Regions from separate parts of the Homo sapiens genome. Here region 2 is linked to region 1. The links come from fine-mapping of genetic effects on gene expression. A gene starts in region 1. The other region holds a variant in brackets. All regions are shown on one strand. Distances are from middle to middle.

Region 1 (3,019 bases):
AATGACATTGTCAGGGCTTTCCAGAGCTGTTGGGCAATATACGACATGTGTGAAGCGCCTAGCATCTTGTGCATCCTCGAGAACGATGAAACCTCCTCTCTGGTTTGTTTGCTTGTTTGTTTTTGATGGTGGTTACGCAGTGGAGAGAGAATGTGCACTCCGCAGTCAGTAACTCCGCACTACGAAACCGTTAGTCCCTGTGGGGTCACAGCTCTCTCTGTGGGGTCCCTTTTCTCCTACTTTCACATGGGGAACTCCCTGGCCTGGAACTCTGGGCCTCCCCAATACTCCTAGCACGGCCTCCTCAGGGTTGTCTGAGGCTGATCTTGGAGGCGGTGCGCTGGTAGAGGCACCGCACACAGGCATCGTTTCACACAACTGTTACTTAGGTTTTCCAATAGTAAAGTTCTAAGTGGATGAATGAACACAAGCCGCGGATTTTAGGGAAACTGGGAAAACTGCCCTGAGGTACAGCTGCAGACGCTGCAGCTCTAGACCGCGGGGTCCGGGCTCAGGCAGCCCTTAGCGCCCAGGCTGGGTCCGGCTGTCACCACCCCGAGCGTCCTGCGGCAGCCTCCCTTGCACGAAAAGCCTTCGGTGCTGCAGGGCTGGGGAATGCTGACACCCAGTCCGTGCCCAGCTGGAGGGCAAGGGAGGACACCTGGGGTGGGTGCCGACCCCCGCAGGTCCTGTCTCAGCCCTTCCAGTCCGGGGCGCGGAGCCAGGGCGCTTGCGCGTCCTCCGTGTGCGTCCTGCTCGGCGCGCCTCGGAAGCAGCGGGACCTGCGGGGACGCCCGCGAACTCAGGGAAAAGTCCCAAGGCGGCGTTCCCAGGGTACCCCCTCTTCCACCCCAGGGACTCTGCCCGGGAAAAAGCTTCCGCAGGGAGCCCGGCGGAAGTGGGCGGAGACGCTCCTCCCGGCACTGAAGGAGTTACGCGTTCAAACCAGAAGGGCGCGAAAAATGGGGCCATCTTGCTCCGCCGCGGCTGGCGGGCTCTGGGTTCCCCCTGCGACGGAGGTGGCCTCGAAGGGCCGCGTCCCGCCCCGTCCTAAACCCCGAAGCGGAGTCGCCGTCCTACAGGGCCGCGTGGATGCGGAGCCCTGTCCCCCTCCCCCCGCCACCCCTTCTGCGAGCGGCCTCCAAGTCGCAGGGTCCCCCTGGACGGCCGGGGGTCGGGGGAGAGCCCGGGCGCCCCCAGACTTGCGCTCAGCACATCTTGGCATCGCAGCACTTTGCAAAGCTTGTGATGGAAGGAAGGGCGGATACATCTCCCCTGCTTCTGCGAGGGGATCTTGCATGCGTGGGGCGGGGGGATCGTGCATGGGCGGGAGGAAGTCAAGCACCAGTCGGGAGGGGGGGGAACCGAGCATGGGTGGAGGAAAATCATGCATCCTTGGGGGGATGGTGCATGCGTGGGCATCTACTAAGGACGGGAGGACGTGCTCTGCAGGTGGGATGGCCACCACCGTGCGTCACCGGCGCGCAGTGCTGGGCGCAGGCTGGGGCAGTGCCCGCCCGGGCATAGGCAGCCTGTGCGGCTCCCGGCGCCGGGGTGGGGTTAGGGGCTGCAGGGGTGAGCACAGCCTCGGGCTGCCGCACTCACGCGCGCTCTGCTCGGCCGCCTGCAGCAGGGCCGAGAGCCCCAGGAGCCTCGCGTGCATCTTCCGTGCCGACCCCGCAGCCTGCGCCCGCCCCTTCCCCTGCACGCGGCCCCGCGTCGGGGAGGTTTCCGGCCCGGGGCCCGACTGCGGGTGGCATTTCTGGCTAAGCCGTTAGGCGCGAATTGTATGTCTGGTTTATTCGTAGTGGCCAGCAGGGGAGGGAGGGAGGATGCTTGGGGTTTCTGGCTTCCAGGGTGGGTGGGGACGAGGTGGTGGAGTCCAGCTCAGGTCCGGGCTCCTGATAAGGGCAGAAGCGGGTTCTGCGCTGCCCCCAACCCTGTAACCGCCAGGAAAGCGCTTGGTGAGCGTCGGGACTGCGCAGGTTCCTCGGGAGGTGGCTAAACTGGCCACCGCCTCTGGGGCCGCCTAAAGCAAGTCCGTTAACCACTAGTCAGGGAGGAATACTGTGTTTGAGTAAATATATGTAGAGTTGGGTTAGAATCATTGATTGGGTCTTTTTGAAATCTTACAGTTCTGTGTCCAGAAAACACAGGGCACGTTACCCGGTATCGTGGTCTACACCTCGCCCACAAATCCATCCCAGGCTGTATCCTCATGGAAGCTTTTTCCAGATGTGCTTGAGGGTTAAGATCGCAATGTGCAAGAAGAAAAAGTGCACATTGGAAAACCTTCTCTTCGGAGATATCTATATCTATATTTATATATATTTACAGATATGGAGATATATACACACACGTATCTGAAAACATTCTGACGTTTTAAAAACGGTAAGACAGACTTTTATTCAGAACCATTTCCTTAGATGTAAGGGACTGCACTGAGGTTTTGCAGCAGGGGAGAGAGATTGGGGTCCGAAAATAATAAGGAAAAGTGGGGATTTATAGCCAAGGAGCAGTGTGGGGGACGGTGGATGGAAAGTCATTGAGAAGGGGACATCAAGTGGGGGTTCTGGCTTCCCTGACCTAACAGGATTCCTGCTGAGGGTGGGCCAAGTTGATCCACATCGGGGATGGGGGTGGGGTGGAGCAGGTGTTGGAATTTGGTCAGATATGGAGGGTATTCAGACACCTGAGGTGGGGAATTGGGATTAAACTGACTTAGCAGGATTCTTGCTAAAACTAGACTCTGCAGGAACAGAGGAAGGAATGCCCAGGTTGGGCCCAGTCGTGCAGAGAGCTCGGAGGAGGCTGTCCAGAGTCTGATCAGGGAGACATTCTTTGTCATTCATGTATATACCCATATATTGTAATAGGCTGTTCTTGTATGACTATAAAGAAATACCTGAGACTGGGTAATTTATCAGAAAAGAAGTTTGATTGGCTCACAGTTCTTCAGGATTTACAGGAAGCACGGTGCTGGCATCTGCTCAGTTTCTAGGAAGGCCTTGGGAGCTTA
Region 2 (2,793 bases), 31 kb after region 1:
TACAGGAGACCTGTTTTTGTGACTTGTCTGAAGAAGACCAGTCAGGTCAGACTTGACTAAGCCCAGGAGCAATCATTTCGGCAGTTCCCGCGTGTTTATCAGTGAACCTGGTTTTTAGAAAACAGCAAAACAAAACTGAAACAAAAACAAAATCAGAAACCCAATTAAGCAAGACTCTTTACTTACCTCCGTAGGTGTCTGGTCTCTACAGGTAGAATGAGTCCAGGGAGCTGGGAGGGGGCAGTGATGACACCTCTCTGCATGTCTGGTCTGATGTCAGTTACAATAATCAAACACGGGCCGGGCACAGTGACTCACGCCTGTAATCCCAGCACTTTGGGAGTCCGAGGAGGGTGGATCACAAGGTCAAGAGATCGAGACCATCCTGGCCAACATGGTGAAACCCTGTCTCTACTAAAAATATAAAAATTAGCTGGGCGTGATGACAGACGCATGTGATTTCAGCTGCTTGGGAGGCTGAGGCAGGAGAATTGCTTGAACCTGGGAGAAGGAGGTTGCAGTGAGCCGAGATCATGCCACTGCACTCCAGCCTGGTGACAGAGCAAGACTCCATCTCAAAAAACAAAAACAGAAAAAAACAAAAATAATAATAATCAAACACACAGCAGGACCCCTGGCCAGCTGGGGAGGGGGCCAGTGTGGGTGCGTCTTCCTGGGGCCAGCCTAGGAGAAAGTGCTTTTCCTGGGTGTGTGCCCAGGTCACCTGGCTGTGGGACATGCTTCAAGGAATGGGTCTGCCAGGTCACAGTGTTCCTGGACCAAACTGTGGGTCAGGCTGCTATTTCTTGTGGCCCAATAATGAGAGGCCAATGAACTGGGGAGGAAGAGAGTTTTTATTTCTGTAACCAGTTACAGGAAGAAGGCCTGGAAATGATAACCAGACCAACTCAAAATTACACAGTTTTCCAGAGCTTATATACCTTCTAAACTGTAGGTCTACATGTAAGTGTGCACTCATCGAAAGACATAAGTGATTAACTTCTTTTAATCTATAACTAAGGTCTCCATCCTGAAGACTTTCTTCTGGATCCTCAGTAAATTTACTTAATCTAAATGGGTCTAGGTGGTGGGGTGATTACCCTTATCTTGTCTCCTGATGAATCATAAAGGTTTGGGGAGTTCTGTAGACCCCAACAAACTTGTCTATGGAGGCCTGGGGGGTTTATTCAGACCCCCAGTAAAACTTGTTTAAACTTGAAGGTCCTGTTAAGAATCCCTTCATTATCTTGTCATGCTCCAAGGCCCACGAAAAGCCTAGAGAAAACTTTTGGTGGGCTCGTTGTTACATTCCAGCCTTTGTATAAGGGCACTGGCTCAATTAGCTTTAATGTTTAATGTAGCTGCTCAGTCAGTGCTGGGACAGTTGTAAGGGAGGCCTACATTAGTGAGACCTGGCCCACCACAACAGGGCAGCAAGGGAGGCAGGGGAGAACCAAGTAAGGTGAGGCTGAGATGGGGGGTCAGTCCCCAGCCCCATGGTGGACCTCTGGTCCTCCTGCACCTGGGTGAGCTCCAGCGAGAGCCAGGTGGCTTTCCTCTAGAGAAGAGCCTGTAACCCCTCCTGCTATGGGAGTCTCCTCCTCCTCTTCCAGGTCTTGTGGATGATGACCAGCGGGGTGATCCCCAGTGGGCACCAGTGTATTTGCCTGTCAACAAGGGAACAAGCGAATCAAGTCCC[T/C]GTGTGGTTCACGGAGGGGGAAGATCAGGTTTCACTTGTAAAGAATGGCGGGTGCTTGCACTTGGAGACTATGCCAGTGAATGTGGAGGGCTGCACCCTGACTAGGCAGCAACAGGGTCTTTAGTCTGCACACATTTGGTTAAAACATTCTACGCTGTTCATTTTTCAGAAAGGAGTCTTCCTTTAGGTGAATGAGGCACTGTCGGAGTCACTCTGAGTTCTGAGTCACCGTTCAGTCTGGGCTGGTTGGAAGAAATTGGGTTGAATCTCAGCATTCAGGTTTGACATGTTCTGGGCAAGGACTGCTCTAAATGGAAACTTTTCCCTTTCTGTTCCTTAAGGATGTGAAGAACCCAGCAGCCTTTCCTGAGGCTGTGTCTTCTGTGCACAGCATCTACTAAGGCCATTCAAAAACACCCCTCCATGGATCTTAAAGCACCCCCTTTTTCCCTTAGGAGGGGGAGTTCTGCAGCTCCTTAAGCTAAAGCCAGATGGATGCAACTAAGAGAGAAGAGAGAACTCCATGCTGCCCCCTTGGTGAATAGGCTGGGCCCAGCATGGTGCAGTCCTTAAAGAGGACCACGGTGGATGAGATGAAGCCACCAGGGCACTGTGTGTACAGAAACAGCAGGAATCAAAATGCCATATACCCGATGAGTGCAATGATGAAACAAAAAATTTATGTGCCGACTCAGATTGGAGAAGTATACTGGGAAAAACAGGCCAATAGTAGATTTGATTGGAAGAGTAGTATTTTGAGCAATTTTTGTTATAGCACTGTTTTGTATTTTGACTGATTGTGACAAGCGTGTATTTTTCTGCTGATATTTGTGGGTTCTCAGGCTTTCGTGGCATAAAACAACCTTGATCAAAAATGTGAATGGTATAAGAAGTTAGTGAATCAGCTTTCATGCCTGTCCAGAACAGAACAAAGGGGCACCCACATGACAGCTCACTAAATTTCTTTTAAAAACCTGTTGTCTTCCAAGATTTGGGACTAATAATAAAAAAGCCTCAAGTGGCTTTTGTTCATAAATTACCATCAGTCCGTGATCTAACAGAAGAGATAAAGGCAGGGGAATAACTATTTCTCC

Alleles and levels. Alleles are on the strand shown, and positions count from the first base shown. SD is a standard deviation of normalised expression in the study named.
For the expression in pancreas of the gene that starts at base 1,724 in region 1, C is the high allele of the variant in region 2 and T is the other (small effect, 0.29 SD a copy in GTEx).

Evidence for each region. PIP is the estimated chance that this variant, and not a neighbour inherited with it, causes the effect. A credible set is the group of variants that fine-mapping cannot tell apart.
Region 2: its variant is the best candidate, but not a certain one, in a credible set for the expression of GS1-24F4.2 in pancreas (GTEx, PIP 0.53).

The regions. Positions count from the first base shown.
Region 1 is chr8:6,833,831-6,836,849 of GRCh38, forward strand. It overlaps GS1-24F4.2 (a long non-coding RNA gene), which reads left to right and starts at 1,724. Exons shown (of 3, transcript NR_045217.1): 1 at 1,724-1,787; 2 at 2,136-2,391. XKR5 (XK related 5) reads right to left here and starts at 1,694. Exons shown (of 7, transcript NM_207411.5): 1 at 1,606-1,694. The coding sequence starts at 1,663. RefSeq lists an enhancer at 76-944.
Region 2 is chr8:6,865,355-6,868,147 of GRCh38, forward strand. No RefSeq gene overlaps it. Among named protein-coding and RNA genes, the nearest start is that of DEFB1, 11 kb to the right of the region's middle. The variant T/C (reference allele first, on the strand shown) is at 1,700.